Linked DNA regions of Homo sapiens: all the other regions are linked to region 3. The links come from fine-mapping of genetic effects on gene expression. A gene starts in region 3. Each other region holds a variant in brackets. All regions are shown on one strand. Distances are between the middles of the regions.

The links. PIP is the estimated chance that this variant, and not a neighbour inherited with it, causes the effect.
Region 1: its variant is fine-mapped to the expression of FAM228A in vagina (GTEx, PIP 0.95).
Region 2: its variant is fine-mapped to the expression of FAM228A in tibial nerve (GTEx, PIP above 0.99).

The regions. Positions count from the first base shown.
Region 1 is chr2:24,146,348-24,157,289 of GRCh38, reverse strand. FAM228B (family with sequence similarity 228 member B) reads right to left here. Exons shown (of 11, transcript NM_001145710.2): 6 at 10,455-10,542; 7 at 10,204-10,360. Among named protein-coding and RNA genes, the nearest start is that of FAM228A, 23 kb to the left of the region's middle. The variant C/T (reference allele first, on the strand shown) is at 4,697.
Region 2 is chr2:24,059,005-24,069,946 of GRCh38, reverse strand. It overlaps FKBP1B (FKBP prolyl isomerase 1B), which reads right to left. Exons shown (of 4, transcript NM_004116.5): 3 at 9,021-9,133; 4 at 6,266-6,883. The coding sequence ends at 6,755. It overlaps SF3B6 (splicing factor 3b subunit 6), which reads left to right. Exons shown (of 4, transcript NM_016047.4): 3 at 1,488-1,626; 4 at 2,096-2,361. The coding sequence ends at 2,185. Among named protein-coding and RNA genes, the nearest start is that of SF3B6, 12 kb to the left of the region's middle. RefSeq lists an enhancer at 8,870-9,009. The variant C/T (reference allele first, on the strand shown) is at 5,219.
Region 3 is chr2:24,170,035-24,180,976 of GRCh38, reverse strand. It overlaps FAM228A (family with sequence similarity 228 member A), which reads right to left and starts at 5,924. Exons shown (of 6, transcript NM_001040710.3): 1 at 5,803-5,924; 2 at 5,404-5,510; 3 at 3,107-3,175. The coding sequence starts at 5,496. LOC105374328 (a long non-coding RNA gene) reads left to right here and starts at 6,181. Exons shown (of 4, transcript XR_939833.4): 1 at 6,181-6,469.

The DNA of each region.
Region 1 (10,942 bases), 24 kb after region 3:
ATTCTATTCATCAGCACATAAAATGTTCTCCAAGATAGACCATATAATAGGCCACAAAACAAGTGTCAGTAAATTTAAGAAAATCAAAATTATATCAAGTACTCTCTCAGACCACAGTGGAATAAAATTGGAAATCAACTCCAAAAGGAACCCTCAAAACCATGCAAATACATGGAAACTAAATAGCCTGCTCCTGAGTAATCATTGGGTCAACAATGAAATCAAGATAGAAATTTAAAAAGTCTTTGAACTGAAGGATAATAGTGACACAACCTATCATAACCTCTGGGGTACAGCAGAAGTGCTAAAAGGAAAGCCTACATCACAAAGACTGAAAGAGCACAAACAGACAATCTAAGTCCACACCTTACAGAACCTGAGAAACAAGAACCATCCAAACCCAAACCCGGCAGAAGAGAAATAAAGAGATCAGAGCAGAACTAAATGAAATTGAAACAAACAAACAAACAAAAAATACAAAAGATAAATGAAACAAAAAGCTGGGGGGGGGGGGGCGGAAAGAAATGTATAACAGTGTCTGGTACATCAGAGCTCAATAAATAATAAATGTTATTATAGATTGGACATGAGAATGGGAATTTGGTTTATGGGAATGTTTAGGAAGGGGCAAATTATTATTATTTTTATTATTTTTGAGATGGAGTTTTGCTCTTGTTGCCCAGGCTGGAGTGCAATGGCCCGATCTCGGCTCACTGCAACCTCTGCCTCCAGGGTTCAAGCGATTCTCCTGCCTCAGCCTCCACAGTAGCTGGGATCACTGGTTTGTGCCACCATGCCTGGCTGATTTTTTGTATTTTTAGTAGAGACGGGATTTCACCATGTTGGCCAGGTTGGTCTCAAACTCCTGACCTCCGGTGATCTACCTGCTTCAGCCTCCCAAAATGCTGGGATTACAGGTGTGAGCCACCACGCCTGGCCAGAAGGGGCAAATTAGAAGGAGATTTAGGAATGGATATGACAGAGCCCAGTGCTGGATTAAGTAAAGGGATAATGAGCAATAAAGAAGAACCCTGATATTTCCCATAACCAGGAACACAAAAAAAGCAAGTTAGATGCAAAAGATGACAAGCACGACTCGCTCACTTTTGGATAGGTTGAATTTGACTTATGTGTGGAAAATAGACAATTGAATATTTGTGACCGGAACACAGAAGGCACACACATCTTGCTACAGTCTTCTGAAGACATTCCAGCATTCCAGAACTGTCTTAGTCGTTAAGCACTTGAGCTTCTTCCCAATCTCAGACTCCTGGCCCCATCAGCACCTTCTACATAAGGCTATGGGATGTGGACCCCAAGTGTTCAGGCTGGAGACTGAAAAGTGGCATCACAATTATCCTCAAAATTTGAAAAATATATTGAAGAGAAGCTGTTCCTCTATAGGATATATAGGAAATTCCTCTATAAGAAATAAAAATATGAGCATGGTGGCCGGGTGCAGTGGCTCACGCCTGTAATCCCAGCACTTTGGGAGGCCAAGGCAGCGGATCACCTGAGGTCAGGAGTTCGAGACCAGCCTGGCCAACACGGTGAAACCCTGTCTCTAACAAAAATACAAAAATTAGCCGGGCGTGGTGGCGGATGCCTGTAATCCCAGCTGCTCGGGAGGCTGAGGCAGGAGAATTGCTTGAACTGGGGAGGCAGAGGTTGCAGTGAGCCAAGATCAGGCCACTGCAATCCAACCTGAGCAACAGGCGCGAAAATCCATCTCAAAAAAAAAAAAAAAAAAAAAAAAAATATATATATATATATATATATATATATGCATGGTCTTCAATGACTTCTGGCACACACTTGCTTAGTGTGTAAAGACTAAGATTCAGTAAAAGGGCTCATAGAAGAAGCCAGTCACCCGCAAACACGCCAGCCCCCATAAGGCTAGAGAAGTATGAGGTCATAGAAGATAATCTGACAATCATCTAAAAAGGACATTTTCTTTATCACATTAATGACCACCAGTCATTAATGGTGGTCATTAATAAGTAAGTAAGGGTGGAAACAAACAGTGTGACTGGAACTCACTGTATGCCCATTAATGTGATTTGCTCACTACAAAATCAATATTCTAAATATCATCTTACTACATGATCAGAGTTAAACCTATTATCACTGTATGCCCATTAATTGCTCACTATAAAATCAATATTCTAAATATCATCATCTTAATATACCATCAGAGTTAAACCTATTATAAATAGACTCCTGGTTTGGATGGAACCTATTTAATTACTAGAGCTAGGATTATGATGCTCAAAGTAGACAAAGAAAAAAAGTAACAGCCATTGTTTCGAAATTCTGTTTTAAGGTTTATTTCTGTCTTATGTAACATTCACAATGCCATTTGTGGCCACTTTTTAAAAATAACAAATGAAATGATTTTAGTTCTGCTTCCATTTGGGATGTAGAAAGCATCCTAAAATAGAAATAATGATGCTCTAGAAATAATGGTGCTCTCACCCCAAGGGCAAAAAAAGGCCAGATAATCTACAAAAACATAACTTTTATTGAGCCCATCAGATTTCAAGGCAAAGAAGTAAACTGAATTCCAAAGACAAGTCCCTCCCACGAGAGGCAGGACACAAAACCTGCTTCGCCTTTGGTAGAACATGAGAGGAAAGGGTGGCTTCTTCTCTTTTTCCTCTCATGCTCTCATCCTCAGATAAAAAAAGAAAAACATTGATGATTAGCTGGACTTTATTAAAATTTAAAATGTGTGCTCTGCAAAAGACACTGTTAAGAGAATGAAAAGATAAGCCATAGGCTGAGAGAAATTATTTGCAAAATATATACCTGATAAGGGACTTACATTCAAAATATACGAAGGATTCTTAACACTCAACAATAAGAAAACAAACAACCCATTTTAAAAATGATCAAATGATCTGAACAACAGACACCTCACCAAAGAAGACAGACAGATGGCAAAAAAACATGTGAAAATAGTATATGGCAAAGAAACATATGAAAAGATGCTGGAGGCAGAGCAAGATGGCAGAATAGAAGCTTACACCCTTTATTCCCCGCACTGGAACAACAAATTTGAACATCTATCTGCACACAGAAAAGCACCATCACCAAAACCAAAAATCAGGTGAGCAATCACAGTACCTCGTTTTAACTTCATATCACTAAAAGAGGCATGAGGAGAGCAGGAGGGACAGTCTTGAATCACTGATGCCACCTCTCTCCTATTCCCCAGTCATAGCCGTGTGGTACAGAGAGAGAGTTTGTACATTTGGGGAGGGTGAGCCCAGTGAGTAGGGGACTTATGCTGAATTCGGTTCTGCCCTGTCACAACAGAGAATAAAGCCATGCTGGGCTCAGCCAGCACCCGCTCAGGAAGCCAACATTTGGACCAGCCTTAGCCAGAGGGAAAGTGCCCATCCCAGTGATTGGAACTTGAGTTTCTCCACAAGCCTCACCATTGTGGGCTGAAGTACCCTGGGCTCCTAGGTAAATTTGAAAGGCAGTCTAGGAACAAGGACTGTAATTCCTAGGCAATTCCTCATGTTGGGCTGAGCTCAGAGCCAGAAAACTAGGGTGGCACGTGACCTAGGGAGACACCAGCTGGCATGGCTAAGGGAGTGCTTGCACCATCCCTCTCCCAACCCCAGGCAGTGCAGCTTGCAGCAACTCCAAAGGTGACACCTTCCTTCTGCTTAAAGGGAGGAGAGTGAAGAATAAAGAGGACTTTGTCCTGCATCTCGGATACCAGCTCAGCCACAGCAGGATAGAATAGCAGGCAGGGTCCTGCGGTCCCCATTCCAGGCCCTAGCTTTGGGACGACATTTCTAGACACATTCTGGGCCAAAAGGGAATCTGCTGCCTTGAAGGGAAGGACCCAACCCTGGCAGGATTCATCACCTGCTGACTAAGGAGCCCTTGGGCCCTGAAAACCAGCAGCAGCGATACCCAGGGAGTATACTGGGGGCTCTGGATTCTGAGATGTGCTGGCTTCAGCAGTGACCCAGAACATTCCTAGCTGTGGTGGCTATGGTGAAAGACGCCTTCTGTTTGAGAAAAACAGAGGAAAGAGGAAAGGGAACTTTGTTTTGCACCTTAGGTCCCAGCTCAGTCATAGTAGGATAGAGCAACAAGCAGGCTTTTTGGGTCCCTGAGTCTGGGCCTGGGCTCTTGGACCGCATTTCTGGACCTGCCCTCAACCAAATGGGAGTCCATTGCCCTGAAGGGTGAGTCCCAGGCCTGGCAGCATTCACCACAAGCTGAAGGGAAGAGCTCTTGGGCTTTAAGTAAACATCGGTGGTGACCTGGCAGAATCCCCATAGACCAGTGGTGGTGGTGGCCACAGGGAGAGGATTCTCTGCCTGTGTAAAGGGGAGGGAAGAGTGGGAAGGATTTTGTACTGTGGTGTGAATGCCAGCTGAGCTGCAGTAGAAAAGACCATCAGGTAAACTGCTAAGGTTTTTTTTACTTCAAGCCCTGGCTCCCAGACAGCATCTCTGGACATGCCTGGGACCTGGGGAACTCACACCCTGAAGGGAAGGGCCTTGTGCAAGACTCGGTGCTATACTAGACGTCTTCAGGTCTGACCCAATGCGGCACCAGTAATGGTGGCCACAGGGGTGCTTGCATCATGACACCCCCAGCTCCAGGTGGCTCAGCACAGAGAGAGAGACTGTTTGTTTGGGAGAAGGTGGGGGTAAATATCAGGAGT[C/T]TCTGCCTAGTAACCAGATAACTCTTCTGGATCTTATCAAAGTCCACAAAGGCAATACCTCTATGAGTCTGCAAAAACCACAGTATTATTGGGCTTGGGGCCCAAATCCCTTCAAACACCTGGAAAGCCTTCCCAAGAAGGACAAACCCAGAATGTAAAGACTACATTACCTAACTCTTCAATGCTCAGACACTGATGAATATCTATAAGCATCAACACCATCCAGGAAAATATAGACATACCAAATGAACTGAACAAGGCACTAGGGACCAATCCTGGAGAAACAGAGATATATGACCTTTCAAACAGAGAATTCAAAATAGCTATTCTGAAGAAACTCAAAGAAATTCATGATAACACAGAGAAGGAATTCAGAATTCTATCAGATAAATTTAACAAAGAAATTGAAATAATTACAAAGAATTGTCTGGGCGTGGTGGCTCATGCCTGTAATCCCAGCACTTTGGGAGGCTGAGGCAGGCAGATTACCTGAGGTCAGGAGATTGAGACCAGCCTGGCCAACATGGTGAAACCCTGTCTCTACTAAAAATAGAAAAATTAGCCAGGCATGGTGGCACACATCTGTAATCCCAGCTACTCGGGAGGCTGAGGCAGGAGAATTGCTTGAGTCCGGGAGAGGGAGGTTGCAGTGAGCTGAGATCATGCCACTGCACTCCAGCCTGGCTGACAGAGCGAGACTCTGTCTCAAAATAAATAAATAAATAAAAATAAAAATACAAAAATTAGCCAGGTGTGATGGTGCATGCCTGCAATACCAGCTAAGTCAGGGAACTGAGGCAGGAGAATCGCCTGAACCCAGGAGGCGGAGGTTACAGTGAGCCGAGATTGCACCACTGCACTGCAGCCTGGGGGACAGAGCAAGACTCCGACTCAAAAAAAAAAATTGTCTTGGGCCACACAGAAACACATAAAATACACTAACATTAATGATAGCTAATGAGCTAAAAAAAAAAAAAAAATCACCAAAAAATCTCATAATGAGGCCGGGTGCAGTGGCTCATGCCTGTATTCCCAGAACTTTGGGAGGCCAAGGCGGGTGGATCACCTGACGTCAGGAGTTTGAGACCAGCCTGGCCAACATGGTGAAACCCCATCTCTAATAAAAATACAAAAAATTAGCCGGACGTGGTGGTGGGTGCCTGTAGTCCCAGCTACTCAGGAGGCTGAGGCATGAGAATCACCTTAACCCAAGAGGCAGAGGTTGCAGTGAGCCAAGATCACACCACTGCACTCCATGGACCCTGGGTGACAGAGCAAGACTCTGTCTCAAAAAAAAAAACAAAAAACAAAAAACAAAACAAGCAGAAATTCTATAGTTGAAAAATGCAACTGACATGCTGAAGAATACATCAGAGTCTTTTAATAGCAGAATTTATCAAACAGAAAAATGTATTAGTGAGCTTGAAGACAGGCTATTTGAAAATAGACATTCAGAGGAGACAAAAGAAAAAAAGAATAAAAAACAATGAAGCACATCTGTAAGATCAGGAAATAGCCTCAAAAGTGCAAATCTAAGAGTTATTGGCCTTACAGGGGAGATAGATATAGAAGTAGAAAGTTTATTCAAAGGGATAATAACAGAGAACTTCCCAAGTCTAGAGAAAGATATCAACATTCAAGTAGAAGAAAGTAATAGAACATCAAGCAGATTTAACCCAAAGAAGACTACCTCTAGGCATTTAATAATCAAACACCTAAAGATCAAGAATAAAGAAAGGATCCTAAAAGCATCAAGAGGAAAGAAACAAATAACATACAATGGAGCTCCACCACATCTGGCAGCAGACTTTTCAGTGGAAACCTTACAGGCCAGGAGAGAGTGGCATGACATATTTAAAGTGCTGACATGGCCAGACATGGTGGCTCATGCCTGTAATCCGAGGATTTTGGGAGGCTGAAGCAGGTGGATCACTTGAGGTCAGGAGTTCAAGACCAGCCTGGCCAATGTGGAGAAACCCCATCGCTATTAAAAATACAAAAATTAGCTGGGTATGGTGGTGCACAGCTGTAATCCCAGCTACTTGGGAGGCTGAGGCACAAGAATCACTGGAACCTGGGAGGCAGAGGTTGCAGTGAGCCGAGATTATGCCACTGCACTCCAGCCTGGGTGACAGTGAGACTCTGTCTCAAAAAAATAATAATAAAATAAAATAAAGAAATAAAGTGCTGACAGAAAAAAACTTTTACCCTAGAATAGTATTATCCAGAAAAAAAAATATCCTTCAAGCATGAAGGAGAAATAAAGACCTTTCCAGACAAACAAAAGCTGAGGGATTTCATCAACACCAAACCTATCCTATATGAAATGCTAAAGGGAGTTCTTTAATCTGAAAGAAAGGGATGTTAATGAGCAAGAAGAAATCATCTCAAGATACAAAACTCACTGGTGATAGTAAGCACAGAGAAAAGCACAGAATAATATAACACTGCAATGGTGGTGTGCAAATACTCTTATCTTATTAAATAGAAAGACTAAATGATGAACCAATCAAAAATAATTACAACAACTTTTCAAAAAATAGTATAATAAGACACAAAGAGGAACAACAAGAAGTTAAAAAGCAGGGAGACAAAGTTTAAAGTTTTCACTAGTTTTCTTTTTGTGCGTTTGTATATGCAATCAGTCTTAAGTTGTCATCAGTTAAAAATAATGGGTTACAAGATAGCATTTACAAGCCTCATGGTAACCGCAAATCAAAAAACCAGTAACAGATTTACAAAAAATAAAAAGAAAGAAAGCAGGCCAGGTGCAGTGGCTCACACTCCCAATACACACAGAAACCAATACTATGGCATTAGATTTTTGAGAGAAGAAAAGCCTTATTACAAATCAACCAACAAGCCGGGCGCAGTGGCTTACACCTGTAATCCCAGCACTTTGGGAGGCTGAAGTGGGTGGATCACCTGAGATCAGGAGTTTGAGACCAGCCTGACCAATATGGTGAAACCCCGTCTCTACTAAAAATACAAAAATCAGCTGGGTGTGGTGGCATGTGCCTGTAGTCACAGCTACTCAGGAGGCTGAGACAGGAGAATTGCTTGAACCTGGGAGGTGGGGGCCACTGCACTCTGACCTGGGCGATAAAGCAAGACTCTGTCTCAAAAAAAGAAGAAGAAAAAAAAACTACAATGAGTTATCATCTCTTCCCAGTTAAAATGGCTTATATCCAAAAGTCAGGCAATAACAAATGCTGGCAAAGACGTAGAGAAAAGGGAATGCTTGCACACTGTTGGTGGGAATGTAAATGGGTACAACTACTATGGAGAACAGTTTGGAGGAGCCTCAAAAAACTAAAAATAGACCTACCACGTGATTCAGCAATCCCACTGTTGTGTACACACTCAAAAGAAAGGAAATCAGTCTATTGAAAAGATATCTGCACTCCCATGTTTGCTGCAGCATTGTTCACATTAGCCAAGATTTGGAAGCAACCTCAATGTCCATCAACAGATGAATGGATAAAGAAAATGCACTTACACGCAATGGAGTAATATTCAGCCATAAAAAAGAATGAGACCCTGTTATTAGCAACAATATGGATGGAACTGGAGGTTATTGTGCTAAGTGAAATAAACCATGCACAGAAAGACAAACATCATATGTTATCACTTATTTGTGGGATCTAAAAATCAAAACAATCGAACTCATGGAGATGCAGAGCGGAAGGATGGTTACCAGAGGCTGGGAAGTGTATTGGGAGGGTAAAGGGTAAGTAGGGATGGGGTTAATGGGGACAAAAAAATAGAAGGAATGAATAAGACCTCGTATATGATAGCACAACAAGGGGACTATAGTCAATAACACTTTAACATACATTTAAAAATAACTAAAAGGGTATAATTAGATTCTTTGTAACATGAAGAATAAATCATTGAGGGGATGGATACCTCATTTTACATTATGTGACTATTATGAATTGCATGCCTGTATCAAAACATCTCATGTACCTCATAAATATATACACCTACTATGTACCTACAAAAATTAAATTTACAAATTAAAAAAAAAGGTATCAAGACTCCTATTCCTATACTAAGCAGAAATCTTGCTGTCGTTGGAAGACAGACAGGACACTGCCATCCAAGAACAACCACAGATACAAGGTCAAGTTTGGCTGCCACAAGGATAAGGAAAAGGAACCTCAGGAAAGTCCTGCTTCTGAGGCCTAAGCACATAGGGCTTGTCTAAAACTGAAGCTCCATGAGAAAAACATGGGATATTCCTCTGCGTCCACTAGAAGCCTTGCAATAAGCAACATGCAACAGTGGTATACTCCCGTGGGAGAGGGAAGAGCATGGAGAGAATACCCCTCCACTTCTATGATGCCAGCTTGCATGGATAGCTGAAAACTGAGGAAGGAGCAGAAACACTTGAGAAAATCCCTCTGGCACCCCACCCGCACTCTAAGCACAAGGAAAAGCAGCCTAACCACTGGAGGTATTCAAGCCTGTGATGCACTAAAGGTAACAATAGCAATAACATTACCCAAACCCAACTCAATTCCAACTAGATAAGGCTAATCCTCCACACTAATGCTTGACAGAAGAAGAGGCATATCCATTTCTAGACATAAATACTCCATGTACACCATTCTTCTACATCAAATATCTGGCATTCAATAAAAAATTACAAGACATGCAAAAAAAAAAAAAAAAGGCAAGGCAAAACAAGCCATTGTCAAGAGATAAAGCAATCAAGAGAACTAGATTCATAAATGACCCTAACATTAGAACTACCAGATAGGGAGTTTTAAATTATTAATATGGTAAAGAATCTAGTGGAAAAGGTGGACAACATGCATGAACAGATGAAGAATTTCAGAATAAATAAAAACTATCTAAAAATTCAAATGGTAATGCTAGAAATTTGAAAATCATGATATCAAAGATGAAGAGTTCCTTTGATGGGCACAGGACACAGCTAAGGAAGGGCAGTGAACTTAAAAACAAGTCAGAAATCATCCAACTGAAAAACAAATAAGGAAAAAAAGAGTGGAAAATCAGAACAGAGTAAGAGCTATGGCACTGTGAGACATCATCAAGTGATCTAATATACATATAATTGGAGTCTCAGGAGGAAGAAAAAAAGTAGACAGAACAGGAAATAAGAAATATTTGAAGTGATAATGGCCTAGGATTTCCCCAAAATAATAAAAGACATAAAACCACACATATGAGAACCTCAGAGAACATTAAGATAGACAGAAAAAAACAAATATAAACAGATCATAATCTAGCTAATGAAAACCAAAGAGAAACAGAAAATCTTGAAAGTACCCAAGAAAAAAGAAACATCACATACAGAGAAACAAAGATAAGAATTATGGATTTTTCATTGAAAAATGAAATTTTCAGAGTGAGACTCTGTCTCAAAAAAAAAGAAAAATGATAATTTTAAAAAATCATAACTATGAAAAATGTTATATCAGTCTGAAGAATTTTCAAAGTCCAAAAGGTTCTATAATTTCTAGTATATTAACCATTACCTTCTCCTTCTACAAAATTCACTTTCTATGTATCTTGTAGGCAGTTTCAGCCACTCGTTTGGAGTTATAAAGTGCCTTGAATTAGAAATTTGTGGGAATCTGGAATGCAGCTGAACCTTCTCAACTTCTTTGAATTCCTTTATTGAATATATTTTGCCTGAAGGAAGAATAAAAATCTAAATTAACATCCTTAAATGCATCTGCCATTGCTCTTGGGCTATGAAATCACATAACAATTAGGAACTAAGTACCAGTCTCACACTGAAGAAGAGTTCTTTTTTCGTTATCCTTGTCATATTGTGCTTTTTTCAAAGGGTCATGAAATGGTGGGATGGTAACCTACAAGAGAGGCACTTGTTTAAGCACTGAGTTGCAAGTCTGAGTAGTAAACATTTTCAGTCTATTCTAAGCATCCACATATGGATGGCTCTTATGCCGGGAGGGTAAATAATATGGTATTTACAAATAGCAGGCTTACCATTATATTTATTTAATATATTACAAAGAGATGGGGGTATATCAATACCTCTCTTAAAGGCCCTCCAGTCAAAGAGACAAAGTTAGCTCTTGTTTCAAAGTGTGGGTTCAATCTTCAAAAATTATTTTGTTGTTACCATATGTTCCCAAATTTTAAAAATTCCTTTCCCATGCACAAAAGAAAAAATATATCCATATATTCATCTTAATCCCTAACATTGATAATCAACAACATAACTAACATTACTCAAAACTTAACCAA
Region 2 (10,942 bases), 110 kb after region 3:
TGCGTGGCACTAAAGGAATAAATGAAGTACGCATAAGATCACCTTTGCTCTTAAGGAACTGAAAATCTTATTAAGTTTTTAGAAGTCAAAAGTCTGAAAGTTGTTAAGACTTGCCAGAGCCTAAAGAACATTCTAAAACCCCTCGTCAGGCCCACACAACCTGACAAAGTGAGCGCATTCATTGACAGTGGCACCCTCCAATCACCCCCAGTACCCTATTCCTTTTCAATTTTACAGGAAGCACAAGCTTGAACAGGGCCCAGACTATAGTCCTATCCTAGATCAAGTCTAGGCAGGTACCTCCTCTTCCCATGGCTCCACTGCTTTTATTCAACCCTATGTAAGGACTGTGGCAGATGGAGAGTCAGCCCACAGTCTTAAACCTCATTCCACAGTTGCACTGGGTGGTTGGAACACAGATGGAGGCAAGGGGGCCATCTTGTCACCCAGAGCCTGAACTGAGTGGGACCTCTACCCATTGTCTCCACTAACAGTCACATGGCCACCTGCTGCCTGCAATTTAGCGTTGCGTTGCTCCTCAAACTTCTCTACCTCTCCCAGAGGAAGTTGGTGAGGTGAAGGAAGGAAGTGGCCAGGAATAACTACACTAACAGCAACCTCGTATCCATAAGTAAGGTTAGCTTCCACTTCCAGCCACCTTCCAGCATTCTGCCCTGGCTCACTGATAACCCTATCCACAAGCACACTTCCACTCCCATCTTTGCAGAAGCCTAGCCCTTCTCCCTAGCCACACAGCTGTATCGTGCATTAGCACTTGAGTTGTATTAAAAATGAATGTAGACCGGGTGTGGTGGCTCATGCCTGTAATTCCAACACCTTGGGAGGCTGAGGCAGGCGGATCACTTGAAGTCAGGAGTTTAAGACCAGCCTGGGGAACATGATGAAACCCTGTCTCTACTAAAAATACAAAAATTAGCTGGGCATGGTGGCACATGCCTCCAGTCCCAGCTACTTGGGAGGCTGAGACACAAGAATCACTTGAACTTGAGAGGCAGAGGTTGCAATGAGCTGAGATTGTGCCACTGCACTCCAGCCTAGGCAACAGAGTGAGAGTCTATCTCAAAAAAACAAAAACAAAAACAAAAACAAAACAAAACAAAGACAACGTAGAGCCAGTCAGGGTGGCAAGAGCACCTGTAGTCCCCACAACTCACGAGGCTGTTCTGTGTAGTAGCTGTGTTCTTAGTATTCCTGATGTGACAGTCAGCTTGACCTATGGATATTTTAGTTAAGATAAAAACGAAGAACAAAATTACCTAATTCAAGAAATTACAGGCTTATCCGGTATATCTATCCATGTTTATTTCCTCTGATGGTTTCAGGTTGATTTCAAAATACTTAACTAAAAACGTATTTCAATTTACTGTTTTTAAAAGACAGTTACCAGTTTAAAAGACAGTTCTGTAAGTCAACTATCAATGCTCAGGTAAATGTATATCTTAATTAAGTTTAACTTACCTCTCCAGGGGGAACACACCTGAAACTAGAGGAACAGCTTATGTGGTCTATGAGGACATCTTTGATGCCAAGAATGCATGTGATCACCTATCGGGATTCAATGTTTGTAACAGATACCTTGTGGTTTTGTACTATAATGCCAACAGGGTAAGTATAGCAAAGTTCTCATTGTGTAGTGATCTCATTTGAGAATTAGTGTAGAACTGGCCGGGCGCGGTGGCTCATGCCTGTAATCCCAGCATTTTGGGAGGCCGAGGTGGGCGGATCACGAGGTCAGGAGATCGAGACCATCCTGGCTAACACGGTGAAACCCCGTCTGTACTAAAAATACAAAAAATTAGCCGGGCGTGGTGGCGGGCGCCTGTAGTCCCAGCTACTCGGGAGGCTGAGGCAGGAGAATGGCGTGAACCCCAGGGGGTGGAGCCTGCAGTGAGCCAAGATCACGCCACTGCACTCCAGCCTGGGCAACAGAGAGACTCCGTCTCAAGAGAATTAGTGTAGAACTGTACTGTGATGATATATGTCTACTATGACTTTCTTTTTTGGCTAATGCTATTGATGAAATTCATTTGGCTGTAGATTGGTAATTTAATTTTGGTGCTTACCACATTTCCAGGCATTTCAGAAGATGGACACAAAGAAGAAGGAGGAACAGTTGAAGCTTCTCAAGGAGAAATATGGCATCAACACAGATCCACCAAAATAAATGTTTTCTACATTTTCATTTGGACTAAATCCCACGAATGACAACTACCACCTTTTTTTCCTTTTTAATTAATACTAAATATTGTGATTTCTTATTTGAGGTTCAAAATGACCTGCTTGAAACTTTGATACATATTGGAATACATTATGTTAATAAACTTGTAGCTTTTTGTGAAACACCTCAGTCTTTTCTCTTGAACTTTCCCTTCCTGTTTGATACCAGGAAAAAACAGTTGAAGCTTATCAAGAATTGTAGGTGCTCCTAGGGATTCTGAGTTTCTTGAGAACAGGATCTCTTTACATTCTTAATGCCTCCAGGGCCCGGTGCAGTGCTTAGCCATCAAAGGAACTTGCTGTTTATTGCATGTCCATTAATAATGAAATCTTCATAACAACTCAGTGAAGATAGGTATTTGCATTTTGCAGGTGAGGAAACCAAAGTTCATGATGTTGGTTGAATGAATAAAATGCTAACATACAAAGCTGGTGTGATAACAACCAGTTATTAACCAAGCCTTTACATTTGAATAATGCTTGCTTTATAGTTAACAAAACACCTGTGTCAATATGGGTACCCTTGTCTTTAGAACAGAGGTCTATTATAGAAATGGTCATTTAGATGATAGTACATTGTTAGAAACTTAGATTTGCCTCTTTAAATTGTTTTTTAATTATTATGGGTACATAATAATTGTCACATTGGTAGAAATTTGAGAGCAAGCTGCTTGGGTAGTGGCGTTGGTTGTTACATGTCTAAGATTGTATTTATGTAGACTTTTCCTTTAGTTATTAAGTATCTGTAGGTATATTGGACCTTAGCTCATAATATATCTTTGCCATAAATACTTAATGCTCATTCTTATTATCATGAGTTCCCATGACATGGAAACAGTATGGTTATTACCCCATTCATCATCATGGCAGCTTGGGAGAATATAGCCGTAATTTGCTTTTTATTGCTTAGGCATGGACCAAATGGAAAAACATGGACTAATTGTTTTGTGTGTGATTGGAACCTAAAATCAATTTGAAGGTACATACACTGAATCACTTCAATGTACAAAGAGCATCAATTCTGCTTTTAATTATATCTGAGTGTTTTTTGAAAGCAGTGTAAGAGAGTAGAGTCATTTCTAAGGGTGGGAAGATAAGAAAGGAGCTACAGCTGTAATTTTCTTTTGAATGCTTTTATGAATGCATTATTAGTTTTTGTAATGCACGGTGTGCCTTTAGGTAATGTAAAAAGAATTTTCTAAAAGACTTTCTTGTAAGAGAAAAACTGAAATTAGACTTTAAAACTTAGAGTGTGATTTGTCTAAGTGGCAGGCTAGCTTGCCTCTGGTGTAGTTGTTTTAATAACAAGGAGAAATTCCTTCTATTAGCAGTCATGACCAGTCCATCATTTGGATTGATATATCTGTTAGCTGAATTTCATGACCTAAAGTTAAGACTTAAAACTTCCCTCTAATTGTTTGGAAATTCCATATCCTGTCGCAATTAAGTTACAAGAACTTGCACTCAGTGGACAAACACTGACTCCCACTCTGCACACAGTACTGTACGAAGATGCTGAGGATATAATTATGATCGGTCCTCTGTGCAAGGCATCCAAAGCTCAATTTTTCAAATGCTTTTAAGAGTGCAACAGATGACTGTGTTTATATGTGCACACACATGTGCCAGAGCTGCTTTACTTTCATCTGGGTTAAATTTTTGAGTTTCTAAGAAAAAAATTCGTAGGAATAGAGAATTCATTGACTGAAAGTCTGAAAACAACTGATGTGACCTTGATCTTATTATTGCTCTTCTGTTTAACAGCTTTAGTGGCTCTCATAGGCCAATGTCCAGACTCATTAGCATACTGCATCATGATTTTCTGCATCATCTTTTAAGAGCTCCAGTAAAATGGTTCATTTCCCAGTTTACCTGCAGAGCCTCACCTGTCCTCTCCAGGTGCTAGCCAGTATGTGTTTGCACTTTGGGGGAGTTCTTTTAGTGGGTGTCTCCTTTGACCCACCTCAGTTATAAATACTCTAGACCAATATCTTTTATATGCCCCATAGTGGGCACCTGAAATAGTCCTTGATGCCATCTTTTGTTATCTTATTGGTGTCACAGCAGAAAATATGCGTATGTCTTTTATGCAGGCTGACTTCTGAGAAATTATTGTAGGCATTTGAGTCATCAAAGAAAGCCAGGAACCAAGACATTCTGAAGGAAATACCCTCTGGCTGGTCTAGTCTCACAATAGAGGTGAGCACAGGGACTTTGGTGACTAAAATGCAAGGCAGTTCCTTTCTCTCGTTTTCTCCATCCTAAAGCACTGCTTCTTCATTAGCTCCTCCACCCTCAGCAAAGGAATACAGCCAGGATTTCTTGGAGACAAAAAAGGTAGATCATGTAGCCAAGATGACATGGCCTCATAGCATATATATGACATCATGTGACATGTATCAGTGGGTCTATGAGGAACACTAACAGTACCTGTTATCAGCCCCTCCGTCCTCAATCTTGAAACAATTCGAAGTCGTCACTGATAGAAAACCGTATTGGCTGAGTGCAGTGATTTAAACCCATAATCCCAACACTTTGGGAGGCTGAGAGAAGATAGCTTGAGGCCAGGAGTTTGAGACCAGCCTGGGCAACATAGTGAGATTCCCCCATCTCTATTTTTTAAAAATAATAAATAAATGATTAAAAAAAAAAAAGAATAACCCCAACTATGGCCAGGAGTTTTTCTCATCCTATACCAACTGAAAGAAAAATGTTTGAGGCTGGGCGTGATGGCTCACACCTGTAATGCTAGCATTTTGGGAGGCCGAGGCAGGCGGATCATAAGGTCAGGAGATTGAGACCATCCTGGCTAACATGGTGAAACTCCGTCTCTACTAAAAATACAAAAAATTAGCCAGGTGTGGTGGTGGGCACCTGTAGTCCCAGCTACTCGGGAGGCTGAGGCAGAAGAATGGTGTGAACCCGGGAGGCAGAGCTTGCAGTGAGCCGAGATCATGCCACTGCACTTCAGCCTGGGCAA[C/T]AGAGTGAGACTCCGTCTCAAAAAAAGAAAGAAAAAAAAGAAAAATGTTTGAGTATATTGCCTCAGTCTCCTATGGCCTATATATAACCTACACCAATAAGTGTGCTGATTTTAAAACCTAACTGGTGTTTCTGGTTAGTTACAATAAATGTTGATGAAATAAGCACTATATGTGGAAACAAGTTCAGAATCATACATTCTTCTCAAAAGTAATTCCTCAATGTAAGTCAGAACAAATCTAGGTGAAACTAAGCAGTGTATGTGAAAACAAGCTCAGAATCACACACTCTTTTCACAAGGAACTTCCCAATGTGAGTTAGTGTACGACTTCAAGCCCTTAACACACCTTCATTTGTTTAGACACAAAAAGTGTTCTGTATCCATCTGGGTGAGTGGAGCTCATCCCTCTGGCTGTAGTCCAAACAAAGATTGCAAGAGCACATAAGGTGCTCAAGTCCCACATCTGATTGCTAGGCTACAAGATTTGGAGCCTATATTTCTTTAGTTATGCAGAGGAGGATTCTGAGCCTGAGATGAGCGGCAGGTAATATCTACTGTGCAGGGTTGCTTAGAGGATCAATGGTAATAATTTAAAAGTATATAGCCAGGCACAGTGGCTCACACCTGTAATCCCATCACTTTGAGAGGCCAAGGCAGGTAGATCAGTTGAGGTCAGGAGTTTTGAGACCAGCCTGGCCAATATGACAAAACCCTGTCTCTACTAAAAATACAAAAATTAGCCAGGCGTGCTGGTGAGCATGACAATCGTTTGAACCCAGGAGGCGGAGGTTGCAGTGAGCCAAGATTGTGCCACTGCATTCCAGCCTGAGTGACAGAGCGAGACTCCATCTCAAATAAATAAATAAATAAATAAAATAAAAAAGTATGTAGAACAAGGCCCAGCATGTAAAATGCTCACATTGTAGCTATTATATTTATCACTCACCTAGCCACTTGGAACCCTCCTTTCTTTCCACTCTTTCCCAAGGGCACCTGGCTTGTGTGGTCCTTAGAGCACTTCCTACCTAAAATAAGGATGGACAGGAGTTTGTCAAGCACAGAGCCTTTATTTTACATTTTCTCAAAGAGGACATTGTTTAAGTGAGCAGCTAACAGAATTTATAAGAGAGAAAGTGACAGCAAAGGTAACTGGCTCAAGTCCCTCTGTGTACGGTACGCCATGTACATTTCATGTCTGAGCACCTTGTGTGTGTGGTTTAAGTGAAGGTAAGGCAGTGTAGATTGTGCGAACAAGAGATCTGTGTTCTGTCATCAGGAAAGGCTACTACATGCATCACACAAAATGCACAACCTGAAATGCTTCAATCTGCAACCGAAGTTTCCTCAAGCAAGAATTCGCATGAACACTGACGAACACATACAGAGCAACTTGGGCAGAGAGAATGGATGATGCCATGAGGCAGTGAGGTTAGCACACTGATCAAGAGCCCCAAAAGCAGGAGCCGTCCCAGTGGCAGAGCAGGCTAGGAGGGTGAGCAGCAGCCATCTCCAGCCACCTTGAGTTCCTTCCTGCCTTCACTCTAAGTTGAGCAGCTCCACGTCAAAGATGAGGGTGGCATTGGGAGGGATGACACCGGGGTGGCCCGTGGCTCCATATGCCACATCAGGGGTGCAGGTCAGCTTCGCCCTCTGCCCCAAGCTCATCTAGCAGGGATGGGGGCAGATGGGGAGAGGAGAAAGAGGACCCAGCTTGATTTAAAAGAAAAAAGTTAGATGACTATGGCATTTTCCCAAACCATCCTCAATGTTAACTCTGAAGATCTCAGATGAATTTTACATGGGATACATTGAAATCGTGCTAACAGCTTTAACAAACGCAGATTCTGCCTCAGCAGAGATGTGACTGTGGGGCAGTAACCCTCACAGAGTGGTCTCAAATTCATGCATCTGACAAACATTACTGGTTATTCAATTTGTGTATGACTGAAACACTTCCATTTGTTCATAGTTCACCCTCTTCCAAAGAATAGGCCTCTTTAGGAAAAGAGGGTGTATGAATAGCACACGTAAATACTCAAGTAGGTGACAGGGGCAGTTATTTAAAGTGGTTTAGAGACTAGAGTCACCAGCAAGGTGGCAAGGGGGACCTATTGTGGCCAACCGTGGTGGCTCACACCTGTAATCCCAGCACTTTTGGGAAGCCAAGGTGGGCAGATCACTTGAGTCCAGAAGTTCAAGACCAGCCTGGCTAATATGGCAAAACCCTGTCTCTACTAAAAAATACAAAAAGTCCGGGCGTGGTGGCTCACACCTGTAATCTCAGCACTTTGGGAGGCCGAGGCAGGTGGATCACCTGAGGTCAGGAGTTCGAGAGCAGCCTGGCAAACATGGTGAGACCCCGTCTGTACTAAAAATACAAAAATTAGCCAGGCGTGATGGTGATGGTGCACACCTGTAATCTCAGCTACTCGGGAGGCTGGGGCAGGAAAATTGCTTGAACCTGGGAGGAGGAGGTTGCAGTGAGCTGAGATTGTGCCACTGCACTCTAGCCTGGGCAACAGAGTGAGACTACGTCTCAAAATAAATAAATAAATAAAAAACAAAAAACAGGCCGGGCACGGTGGCTCGCACCACTTTGGGAGGCTGAGGCGGGCAGATCACGAGGTCAGGAGACCGAGACCATCTTGGCTAACAACGGTGAAACCCCGTCTCTACTAAAAATACAAAAAAATTAGCCGGCCGTGGTGGCGGGCGCCTGTAGTCCCAGCTACTAGGGAGGCTGAGGCAGAAGAATGGCGTGAACCCAGGACGCGGAGCTTGCAGTGAGCCAAGATTGCGCCACTGCAGTCCAGCCTTGGTGACAGAGTGATACTCTTTCTAAAAAAAAACACCAAAAACAAGACCTATCGTAAGGGAGCATCATAGGACTTCACAGACAGACCAAGAAAGAACAGCTTGAACCAGGGCTCATCACAGCAGTTGTTGAGAACCCACTCAGCATTAGTGGGACAATTGGTGAAATTTAAATCTACTTTTGAATTTTGAATAATCAAAAATTTGAATAAGTAAGTAATTTGTATCAGTGTGAATGTCCTGGTTTTGATAATTGTACTATGGTTATGCAAGAAGGGGAAGCTGGATAGAATATAGAAGAACTCTGTACTATTTCTTTAATATTTTTGTAATTCTGAAATTCTTTTCAAAAAAGCGAAAAAACGAAAAATTTTCTTGGCCTACTCCACCCCAACTCTTCCACTACCTCAGTCCCAGGCAACTGGTAGACCTCAGCTAGTTTATTTTTTTGTTTTGTTTTTTTGAGACAGTCTCACTCCATCGCCTGGGCTGGAGTACAGTGGCACAATCTCTGCTCACTGCAACCTTCACCTCCCCGGTTCAAGTAATTCTCCTGTCGCAGCCTCCCAAGTAGCTGGGATTACAGGCATGCACCACCACGCCTGTATTTTCAGCAGGGACGGGGTTACACCATGTTGGTGAGGCTAGTCTTGAACTCCTGGCCTCAACTGATCCACCCCATTCGGCCTCCCAAAGTGCTGGGATTACAGGTGTGAGCCACCGTGCCTGGCTCTCTCAGCTAGTTCTGAGCAAGCCTAGGGGGATGTGCTTGGGATGAGAGCCCCCAGGGACACAAAAGAGGTATGCTGGCAAGGAGAGGGGTGGGGACGCAAAGCCAGGAGGGGACACCAGATGGCGTTGCCATGCCCTGGCTGTAGAGTCAAAGCAGTAGTGGTCTGTGAGTGGGTGAAGGTGGAGGTGGAGGGCAGAGTGCTGATCCCAGATCCCCAACTCCCCAGATCCCCTTTAATGCGAATCCTCATCCTACCTGGGCTGCACCCTCTTCAAAACCTTTGATGACTTCCTGTTTGCCAATTCTGAACTTGAAAGGTTTGTTTCTGTCTCTGGATGAATCAAACTTCTTCCCATTTTGGAGCATTCCTGTCAAAGCAAGAATCGGGTGCAATAGAGCTGTGGTCATGAGTAAACTCCCAATTCAGATTCCACATGTCTAAAATGGAATGCCTTTTCTGCACACACCTGCTCCTCTTCCGATCCTCCCCATCCATCCTGTTGCCCAAGCAGGAAATCTGGACACTTCCTTCTGCCTCACCCCCACATACTGCCTATCACTAAGTCCTCCATATCTTTGGAATCCACCTATTTTCTTCATTTCTATTTTTATTTATTTATTTATTTATTTGAGACAGAATCTCAATTTGTCACCCAGGCTGGAGTGCAGTGGCACAATCTCGGCTCACTGCAACCTCCATCTCCTGGGTTCAATCGATTCTTCTGCCTCAGCCTCCCAGGTAGCTGGCATTACAGGCGCCCACCACCACACTCAGCTGATTTTTGTATTTTTAGTAGAAACAGGGTTTTGCCATATTGGCTAGGCTGGTCTTGAACTCCTGAACTGCAGGTGATCCACCCACCTTGGCCTCCCAAAGTGCTGGGATTACAAGCATGAGCCACTGTGCCTGGCCTTTTCTTTGTTTCTATTACCACGACCAAGTCACCAGCTTATCTCACCTGTACACAGGAACAACCTCCTAACTGGTCTTTTTGATCCTCTTTTACTCGCCTCCATTTCATTGTCCACTTGGCATCCAGACTGATTTTTTTTTTTCTTTAAACACAAATCTGATTCTATTACTCCCCTGCTCAAAATACTTCAATAGCTCCCCAGAGCAGAATCCAAATGCCTACCTTGCATACAGGCACTTCACAATCCGGCTCTGGCCTGCTTATAACCCTCTCTGTTCTCCCCTTCCTTCCCTTCCCTCTGTGTCCTTTTCAGGTCATACCTTTCTCAAATTCCTCTGCACTTTTCAACTTTTTTTTTTTTTTTTTTTTTTTTGAGTCGGAGTCTCCCTCTGTTGCCCAGGCTGGAGTGCAGTGGTGTGATCTCGGTTCACTGCAACCTCCGCCTCCCGGGTTCAAGGGATTCTCCTGCCTCAGCTTCCTGAGTAGCTGGGACTACAGGTACCTGCCACTATGCCTGCTAATTTTTTTATATTTTTAGTAGAGATGGGGTTTTGCTATGTTGGCCAGGCTGGTCTCGAACTCCTGACCTCAGGTGATCTGCCCACCTCAGCCTCCCAAAGTGCTGGGATTACAGGTGTGAGCTATCATGCCCAGCCAGACTTTTCAACTTTTTTATGCCACTTCCTCCACCTAAAGTTCTGTTTTCCCAGCTATTCCAGCCTCAGGTTGAGTCCTCGCATAAGGTTCCTAAGGTTTCCTAAGTTTCCCCCAAAAGGGAAAACCCAAAGGTTACATTATCCCCTACTGTAGGGAACAGTGTAAGGTGACCTAGCTGGTCAGAGGTGGCCTCCAGACTCTGTACTAAGAGGGCTGTTTGAAACCAGAACCCCCCCCCAGGTGCTGGTCCAGCAGTTCTGGTTCCCCCAGCCTCTGCTTCAGAAGCCTTGTCATCCTGATGTCCACATGTCATCTCAGTCCAGCAGCCCAAGGCCCAACAGCTATTCTCAATTCTTCTGTGACTCTGACTCAAAGATCAGACCTTCTGTAAATGATGCAGTTCCACGACTGCTCCCGGCAGTCCCTGGACCACCACAAAAGGCCATTTGGGACTAGAAAAAGACCTTGCTTGTACATCCAGAGACTGGGTTTTGACTTCACTCTGGCTCTAACTCATTGTGTGAGACTGGGCAAATCACTTCCTCTCCCAGGGCCTCAGATGTGTCATATTTAACATAGGAAGCAGGGCCAGCTTAGTGTAGGAGC
Region 3 (10,942 bases):
GGCTAATGTCGGCCTTTAAAATACTTAAAAGGTTCATTCCCCCTCGTGTCATTTCCTTGGGCCAAATACCCCACCTCTTTCCAGTTTTCTTCCTATAAAGTGGTGTCAAGACTCAACTCTTTTCTAAAGGTTTTGCAACTGATGAGGGTCCCTTCAACAGTGTGACATCAGGAATGACAGGTTAAGGACAGGATAGACCAAGACTCTGATGCTTCCCACTCTAAGCACAGCCTCTCTTGCCTGAGAGATGTATGTTTTCTTGGAATCCAGCTCATATGGTTGATTCACAACGACTTTACTGACATTTAAAATTACTTGGACTTCAACACATGCCATTTCTAAGATCTTCCTCCCTATACCCATGAAATCACATTTCTGGACACAAATATAAGACTTTGCACTTTGGAGATCTGGATTCAATCTTGAGCTCTGCCCCTTAAGAGTGTGTAGGAAAAAGTATTTAAGGTAAATATTCAGAAATTGTGCTCAGTAAATATACTTAAATGTTCTAATATTTCAGCTAACCTACTCTAGGGTCTCACTGTCACTCAGGATGGACTGCAGTGACACGATCATGGCTCACTGCAACCTCCGCCTCCCAGGCTCAAGTGATCCTCCCACCTCAACCTCCCAAGTAGCTGGGACTACAAGTGCACAGAACCACACCTGGGCTTTTTTTTTTTTTGTACAGACGGGTTTTTGCCATGTTGCCCAGGCTGGTCTTGAACTCCTGGACTCAAGCAATCCATCCACCTCAGCCTCCCAAAGTGCTGGGATTACAGGGGTGACCCACTGCACCCAGCCACTACTCTAGATATCTACTAGATATGTGGGGGTAAGAAAGATCCAGTAGTGCACACCTAAAGCTAACAGATTTGTATTTGATACTGCAAATAGAGAGACCCAAATTCTGAGAGCTGACCTCAAAATAAAAAAAAATCTCTAAATTAAGAAACCAAATTTTTGTAAAGCCAAACTGTAGAACAGAGTATAGAAACTGTTAGTCCTAATACCTACTGGTTGGCTAAGTCAGCCATGCAATACCATTCTCCTCTGCCCACTTCCTACTAGAGAGATGAGAAAGCCACAGTGGCTTTCCAGGCCCTGCTTATGGCTAGGACTTGCTTCATGACCCAGTCCTGGCCAATGAGACCTAAGGGAAAGTTGGCTAGGGGCCTCTGGGGACTCTTTTTGCTTCCTGCAAAGGAGTAGGGTAAGAGAAGAGGCCCCTGGCACCATTCCTTACCCCTTCCTCCTGCCCTGAATGAAGACCTAATGTCTGGAGCTATAAGCAACCATCAGGCAAATGTGAGAATGATGGGGATAAACTGAAAATACTAAGGATAGCAGAACAGAATAGGAAAAAACCTGACATTGTTATGCTGTCAGAACCCACCACGAGACCACCTACCTCTTAATTTCTTGTGAAGTAAATGCCCTTATGGTTTAAGCCACAGTAACTCCATTAACGTCTACATAAAAATCATTCCTGATAAATCTAGTTCCAAATCAACACTCCTATCCCCTCCAACCTCAGGCTTAAGAATGCAATACGTGTGTTACAATTCAATGAACTCATCTTAAATATAAAAATAAGCTGGAAACTATTTGTATAACCAGTGAAATTGTTAGACCAACTCTTCAAATTATACTCTATTTGAAAAATAAAACATCAGTACCATTTTATGTCTGTGCTGTAAATAATATTCAACATTCTCGTTTCATTTTAAGCTCTTTATATGAAATTACTTTTTCCATAATTCTCTGCTGAAGAGGCTCTGCAACATTTTCAACCCATTTTTTATGTAACATCTCTTTTCTTCTTTCCTTAAAAGTATCCACATGCTGAAAATACATATCCAATCTCTAGTGAAGTGATACAAAAAAGGAAAATAAATTATAAAGAAATGTTTCATTTACTATCATTCGAGTAAGGGGGAAAAAAAAATTTGTTCTCTCTACTAAGCTCTCAGCCACATTCGGGTTGCAAAGTCCCAGTATAAGATAACTGAAGCACAGAATAAAGTGCAGTAAGAGAAGCTGGGAACACAGAGCAGAAGAACTCATATAAACTTCTAAACCATAACTGTGCCTTCAGATTTAACCACATCTAACTCATGAATCAGATTAAGCTATTCCTAACTCATGAAACTCTTGTTTCTTTTTCAGGATTTCCAAGCATTCCCTGGTCACCCACTCTGTGTCTAGCCTTCACCATCAGGAAAGTCTGGGACAAAACTGGTAGAGTAGAAAGCGCACTAGACTTTGACACCTCTCTCTGGCCTGTGAAAGAGAGGTAATCCCATCTACCTCTTTGGATGCTTAAATGGGAATTTATGTGCACTTTCTTTACACATTGTAAATCACAATTCAAATGTCAAAGTTTTATTCTTTTTTGTTTAAAAGACAGGGTCTCACTCTGTCACCCAGGCTGGAGTATAGTGGCATGATCACAGTTCACTACAGCCCCAACCTCCTGAGCTCAAGCAATCCTCCTGCCTCAGCCTCCTGAGTAGCTGGGACTACAGGCGTGTGCCACCATGTCTGGCTAATTTTTTAATTTTTTTGTAGTGACAGGGCCTCACTATGTTGCCCAGGCTGGTCTCAAACTCTCAAACTCCTGGTTTCAAGCAATACTCTTGCTTCAGCCTCCCAAAGTATTATTATAACTCCGTCTCTCTCATTGAAATTAAATGCCCCTTAAGCTAATTTCGTAGTGACTATCAGTTACTGATTGGTCATAACCCTTAAAAGCTTATTTTGTTTCTAGTGGTTTTACTGCAATGTGGGAACATATGAGAAAGAGGCAAGTGTGAGTAGGAAAGAATTTCTATTCGGTACCAGGACGAAGAGAAGGAGCAATTGGAACAACTTCTCAGATCCCTTCAGGACAGATCCAAGTGGGATCAGGGACCTTTTAGTGATCCTGCAAGAAGGGGGCATGGCCTCAGATGCATGTAGTACAAACAAGTAAATTAGAGGATCCTCATTACTCCTGCAAAATGAGTCTCTTGGATCACGGTGACATAAACTCTTGGCCATGTTGTTCTGCACACTCTTGCTCCCCTAGAACATATGTAGAATGCAGCGTGGAGCCAACTCTTACCTTCACAATGGAATTTTCTTTAAATAATATTGCACATACTGCTTCATCAATGTCTTCTCTAGCTAATACCTAAAATTACAGAATTGAATATTAAGATGTGAATCCTGAAGAAACAAACTACAATGACAAAACTCAGTGTACTTTACCAATAGTTTTAGTGTAAATCTTGAGGCTTATTTGGTAACATAAAAATATGGAAAATTTCTAAACCCATTCTCTGTGAACTTGTCAGCCAGGCTCGAGTGATTAATTCCAAGTCAATCTTATTTCATCCAATAAATCCCTACTCATTTTTCAGCACCCCCCCACCCAGACTATTTAAAAAAAATCCCTGATAGCATATTATTAAATTACGTTTTAAAGCACTAAAAAGCTTACTAAAGGAATCCTCTTTTCAGGCATTCAGTAGGTGTTTTTTGTTTGCTTGCTTTTTGAGACAAAGTCTGGCTGTCACCCAGGCTGCAGGGCAGTGGTATAATCCTGGCTCACTGTAACCTCCGCCCTCCAGGTTCAAGTGATTCTCCTGCCTCAGCCTCCCAAGTAGCTGGGATTACAGGCACATGACACCACAGCTGGCTAATTTCTGTGTTTTTAGTAGAGACAGAGTTTCACCATGTTGGCCAGGCTGCTCTCGAACTCCTGACCTCAAGTGATCCACCCACCTTGGCCTCCCAAAGTGCTGAGATTATAGGCGTGAGCCACCCCACCCAGCTAGTAGGTGTGTCTTAAAGGGCCCTTGAAGTTTCCCGCCTTTTGCTAGATCTCTTCATAAGTCAAAAACCACAGAAAGTTCCCTTTAGTTCAACTGGTCCAGAATCTCAGAGCTAATTAGTGAGAGCTCATGGCCTCCAAACAACATCATCCACATCTAGGGACTTGCTATTTCCATTATGAGTTTGGGTAAAGCTGATGCATTTTAATCCCCACTTTAGGGCTTTTTCAGTTGGATCACTATGCACTAATCTCTAGCTTTTATTCTTATAGGACTAAGTGTGAACAAATGAAAAGGCAATGAAAATCCAGTATCTGGAAGAGATAAATTGTTACATTAAAAATTATTGCTGATGAAAAATGATACAGGTTCTTAGAACTGTTATTCAATTTCTGATTCTTCTTTCTATTCTGCCACACTGAATGCATCACAACAAACTAAACCCCAAACTCAAATACCAAATCTGTGAATAAGAGAAATCTCAAAAAAGGAAAGTTGTTCTTTTTACCCACATATTTAATAGCTTCACATGAGATCTAAAATGATATTCAAACAGCTGCCCAGGTCTTCCTAAAATAAAGCTCTCTTTGTAATAGGAACAGGATCTTGCTTTAAAGCCTTCTCAGACTTATTTTAAGAAGACAGGCCAGGCAGGGTGGCTCACGCCTGTAATCCTAGTGCTCTGAAGGCCCAGGCAGGAGAATTACTTGAGCCCAGGAGTCTGAGGTTACAGAGAGCTATGATTGGGCCACTGCACCCCAGCCTGGGCTACAGAGCAAGAACCTGTCTCTAAAATATTTTTTTTAATTAAAATGAAGATGGCAACTGAAAAAGTATGTAAAACAATTAAACATGTATCCTGACACTACAATAAAAATTTAGAATCTATTTATTTATTTGGAGAAGCAGAACATATTGACAAGCATCTTGGGAAGTCACCTTCTTAAAGAACATCCTAGTAAGATTGTTAACAAATGTTATGTACATTCTTGAGTCAGATTCTCAAATAATCTTTGTTTAAAGAAATTAAACAGTTTTTGTCTTTGATGGCTCTTCTTTGTGATTTTGCCAGGAAATATAAGGAAAAGGTCATGATTTGCAGCAGCACTTTTCGAAATCCACAGCTTTCTGTGCACACACATAGAAAAATTAAGCATCTCACTGCTCCGACCGCCACTAGGGCAAAAGGGGAAAAAGAAAGGAAATTTCCAAGAGTTTTTCACAGCGAGGCAAATCATAGGATGACACAAAATAATGAAACTTTTTGAGAAAATCATTACCAGACGCTGAAGTATGCAGAATTGACTGGCAAGCCCAGACCTGGCTTCTGCCGGGGAGCTGGGGTGGCTGCCTTCACCCGCCCGGCTGCCCGCCCCCGTCGGTGCGCCAGCCCCCAGGCTGGCGACTGGAAACACTCTTGGCCACACTCTCGGCCAAATCTGAGCCCGAACATTCCCCTTCAACGCCTGCTTTAAAGCAGGCACTGTCACAATCCTGAGAACAGAAGCGAAATTAAGATAAACAGTTCCCAAACTCGAGGGGTCCCCCCGCCAAAATGACGTCTCAAAACGCCACGTTATCTCACCTCCATTAAAGAAACGGACTCGGGCTCCGGCCATTCTCTTAACTTTTCTGGCCTGAAATGTTCATCATAACTCGCAGTTTTGGTGGCAGCCATGGACAGGAGAATCCCTGAGGGATGAAAAGGTAAACTGAGGCTGAGGAAGACGGTTACCGTTGAGAGCCAGGCCTTTGGGCTCAGGGAGTGTTCAAATCCCGCTCGGCCCCTTTCTAAAAGCTGAGCCGAGTCACCCAACAAACTGGGATCCTTGGCGCCCTAGGCGCTTCAACAGGCCCGGCTACCCACTCCCGTGTCGTCCTCGGGCCAAAGCGGGCCTTTCCTCCGGGGCGCGCCCCCCTGGCCCTGCCACAGCCCTCCCTGGGCTCCGCGACCCCCAGGCCCGTAGGCCTCCCCGGGCCCCACCTCAGGCCAGCTCCGGGGGAAGTCGCAGGCCCCGCGGCTCCGTCCCGGTAGGGCTCCCCCGAGGCCGCGTCCTGGAGCGGCGACGGAGAAAGGAGCCCGCGGGCCCGAGCGTCGGGGCGCATGCGCCACGCCAGATCCCGGGGTGCTGCCCCGACGCCAGCTGGACGGTGACGCCGAAGTCCCGGGAAAAGGAAGGGCGCCATTTGATTTCACAGCAAACGGGCGGTGACACCGACTTCCCGGGAAAGGGAAAGGCGCCATTTGATTTCACAGAAAACGGAAACGCAGTGATGAAGCCCAGCGCCTGGCCCTCGCCCTCCCTCCACGTCTGTCTCGGGGGCGCCCTCCCCTCGCAGGAGCCAGGGCACGCGGGCCTTCAACCGCCGAGGCCCCCGCCGCCCTTCTGGACTTTTATCGAGGCATGTACACTAATACGAAAGAGAATTTGCCATTTACCTGTAAGATTGAGGGTGACAACGTAAGAGGAATGGTTTTAAGTGACGCGTCCGGCTCCTTACTCCCACTGAAGGGTGAAGGTGCCACAGGTGGACCTGGTTTGGATTCTGATGTGAAGAAACCGACTTCAAAACATTTGGGCCAATCAGGAAAATGCGAAAACTCTGACTACAAATTTAATGATATCTAGAATTATTGTTAATAGTTTAAGGTATGGTACATTATCACAACCAAGATTTGACATAGCTACAGTCAAGATACAGGATATTATCTTGTATCAGGTGTATCAGGACACCACTACAAGGATTACTCTGTTTTCAGCCAATGTTTCTTCAAGTATGTTTTTTAGTCCTGCCTGTTTCTCTCGTCCTTCTGGGATTCTGATGACATGAATATTATTATAGCCCCCACAGCCACTTAAGCCTCTCTTCTTCCCTCCACCCCCAGTCTATTTTCTCATTTTTTAAGATTGGGTAATTTTTATTGTTCTATCTTCCAGCTCACTGATTCTTTCCTCCATCTTCTCTATTCTACTGTTGAGCTTAACTGCTGAGCTTTTTATTTTGGCTATTGTAATTTTCAGTTCTACAATTTTCATCTGGTTCTTCTTTGTATCTCCTGTTTGCTCAGGATTTTTATTTTTTCATTTGCTTCAAGTGTATCCATATTTGCTCATTGAAGCAGTTTTCTCATAGCAACTTTAAAAGTCTGTGAGCTTATTCTAACATCTTTGTCATCTCAGTGCTGGTCTCTATTGAAGTCTGAACATTTTCAGTTTATATTATGAGACTCTGGATCTTATTTAAACTTTCTGTTTTAGCTGGCTTTCTCCAACACCAATCTAACAGGGTTAATGAGGTTACCACCTCATTACTGCCAGATGGAGATAGGAATCCAGGTGCCCCAGTTGGCCTTCATTGACACTTGAGGGGCCAAAGTTCCTCATTACTGCTGTGTAGACCATGATTTAGAGATTCTAGTCAGGCTAACTGAGAGACCATTCAGCAAATTACTTCCTTATATGGTATAATCTTCTCGAGAAAAGGAGCTGAATCTATCTCATCTTTACATCTTTCTCATAACATGGGACCATCTATGACTGACCCAAATAGCAGGCGAACAGAAAATTCCTGTTGAGTAGACGACATACACAGAAAAGTATAATATACTGATGGCTTAAACTACATTAAGTATAAGCAAAAGGTGATACAAAATAGGATTTTTAATTTCTACCTAGCTTCTTCCTTACTTCATTTGAAAATAAAAGTTTCCCTGATTTACTGAATCAACTTATTTCAATCTCATATGATTTAAAAGCTTACCTGAGCATTTGTCTCTTTACTTGATGTTCCCTGGCAATGTCGCCTTTTTTACATGGTGAAAATAACTGTTAAGGATTTGAAAGATTCTCCTTTCAATAGGTAGTGCTTCACTGAGTCTTCACCTAGGCTCTTGCTGCAGGCTCTGTGTCTCTTTCTACATACCACAACTAAGTCAGTTAATCTCATAGTATTAAAATCTTTTGTTACTGTTTCTCCCACTAACTTTAGGGCAGAGAGCCTATGTTGGCTCATCCTTATATCCCCAGAACCTGGCAGAGCACCTGGGAAAAACAGGCACTTAAATACTTACTAAGTGAATGATGAATAAATAAATGAATGAGACATAATCCCAACATCTACACAAAATGAAATTTCAATGTCAACATATGAAAAAAACATTTAAGAGACTGAAGACTTGTCTACCAGGAGAGCATCAAGCCTTTTGAAGCTTTGCAGTCGGCCTCTGGTTGCCATTTTGGCATAGCTAGTATTTTTAGTCATTTATAACTGTAATAGAGAAAAGCATTTCTATCCAAAAAGTCTCTTTAAATCAAAAAGTCTAGGCCAGTCATGGTGGCTCATGCATGTAATCCCAGCACTTTGGGAGGCCGAGGTAGGAGGATCGCTTGAGGCCAGGTGTTCAAGACCAGCCTGGGCAACACAATGGGACCGCGTCTCTACAAAACGTTTAAAAATTAGCTGGGCATGGTGGCAGGCACCTGTAGTCCCAGCTACTCAGGAAGCTGAGGTGGGAGGATCACTTGAGTCCGGGAGGTTGAGGCTGAAGCAAGCCATGCTTGTATCCACTCCAGCTGGGAGACAGAACAAGACCTTGTCCCAGAAAACAAAACAAAAGTCTCAATGTTTGTGAAGTGTACATGTTAACCTTAACCATAAGAACAAATTTGCACCTAGATTTTTATTTTAAAAGTATGATATAGATTTAGGCTACCTGTTATAAAGAAAACTTAAGAAATTTCTAAATTTACTTGAACGAAGGAAAGGCTATGGAGAAGGCAGTAATGACTGATTCATGGAACAGAACTGATTTACCGAGACTTTTCTCCTTCTATAAAAAGTCAAGGTGAAGTAACAATATCCCTTTAATGCTGATGTGATTTCTAGAAGTCTGTTTTGACTGATGAAGTAATATAAAAGGGAAAAAATGCCAAGAACTAGAGTATTATAAAATCCTTCAGGGTCTCCCCATAAATTCCAAACGCTTTAGCATGACCTGTAAGATTCCTGCCTGTCTTTTTGGGCTCAGCTTTCTTCAGTGATTCCTGGCCTCCTTGCTCCACATGGTGGATTAGAGATGCCTGCGTGGTCCCATCTCTGGCAAATCCCTGACTCCACTCACAGAGGTAGACTTTTTTTTTTTTTTTTTGAGATGGCGTCTCTTGCTCTATTGCCCAGGCTGGAGTGCAGTGGCGCAATCTTGGCTTACTGCAGCCTCCCCGTCCTGGGTTCAAGCGATTCTCCCGCCTCAGCTTTTCTGAGTAGCTAGGCTTGCAGGTGCCCCCCTACCATGCCCAGCTAATTTTTGTATTTTTAGTAGAGATGGGCTTTTGCCATTTTGGTCAGGCTGGTCTCAAACTCCTAACCTCAGGTGATCCACCCTCCTCGGCCTCCCAAAGTGCTGGGATTACAGGCGTGAGCCACTTCACCTGGCCAGAGGTGGACTCGATGGCAGCACCTCCCTGTTCTTCTCTGTGGCTAATTGGTCAAGGAGTGTACACCTGACCCAAGTCTAGGATCAGATTCTCCTGTCTTTCTTCTAGGATTATAGACGTCTAACCAAAACAGAGACTTGGAAAGGTGTTGTGAGTCACGTTCATGACAACAGCCTAGAAGGGTCTGAGATGCCTGCTGCTCAGGGGCCAGTGCTGTCAAGGTTCCTGCCATTCCTGTGGAATTCAGTTTTTTCTCAGGGTTCTGTAAGATGCTTTGGCACTCTTTCAATGAAATTTTTTTTTTTAATCCCAACCACTAGACCACCAGGGACCATTTGTGCTTATGTTAGCTCTGGTTAGCTTGTTACTTGCAATACAAATGATCTCAAATAATACAGAAATAGTACAAGGCTTCAGAGGAAATGTGAGATATTTGGAATTGGTATTCGTGTCAAAGTGCAGGGAAAGGAAAGGCATCTTCTCTTCACCATGTGGAATGAGCAACTATATTTGTGATACGACATCTGGGATTTGCTTCAAAGTCATCCAGTTAGGGTTGAGAAGTAGGTATGCATATACACAAAACAAGACTGGACATGAGGTAATCAGTATTGAAGCTGGATGTCAGAAACATAAGGATTCATTATACAATTATAATTATTTTTTCTGTAATTCTCTGAAATTGTGCATAGTATAAAGTTTTAAAAATCTAGTTTTCAGCCAGGTGCAGTGGCTCATGCTTGTAATCCCAGCACTTTGGGAGGCTGAGGCGGGTGGATCGCTTGAGCCCAGGAGTTCAAGATCAGCCTGGGCAACATGGTGAGACCTCATCTCTACAAAAAATACAAAAAATTAGCCAGGCATGATGGCGTACACCTGTAGTCGTAGCTACTCGGGAGGCTGAAAGGCGGAGAATTGCTTGAACCTGGGAGGTCCAGCCTGCAGTGAGCCATGATCATGCCACTGCACTCCAGCCTGGGCAACAGAACGAGACCCTGTTTCAAAAAAAAAAAAAAAGAAAGAAAGAAAGAAAATCTAGTTTCACTTAGAACCATATATTGATTAGGGGTGAGATGTTGGGAGACTAGATAACTGTCAGGGTAGAATAATTTAAAGAGGATGAGGAATATGGAATGAGAGAAAAATGGATAATTTAAAGCAAGATAATATAAAGCTCAGATGCCAGAATGTGCAAGGCATTAAAATATAGGGCCACTATTTTTAATAAATCTTATTCCATCTGTGGCCCTCAAGTTCATAAATTGATCCTGTAGGTTGCTGAATTGCAATTCCAGATGGATTAACATTGCTGCCAGTCTTTTATATGAAATCTAGGGCATTGACTAGGAAAGAGGGGGATCTTGGAATTATATATATTTGGGGAACAGACAGAACTGAAGAAGTCAGACTCCCCCAAGTCTTTTGAAAAGGTTACCATGGTGTCCCTTTGCCTAAGGAAAACAGAATTCCACTCTTCTATGCTCTGTGTCCTACTGTGTCTTCCTGTGACCAAGATTCAAACTCAACATGAGCCAGAGGGCAATGTTTAGAATCAGCAAGTGAGTAATTATACCCTAAATGAATTTTTTTTTTTTTAAGATGGAGTCTTGCCCTGTCACCCAGGCTAGAGTGCAGTGGTGCAATCTCGGCTCACTACAGCCTCCACCTCCAGGGTTCAAGCAATTCTCA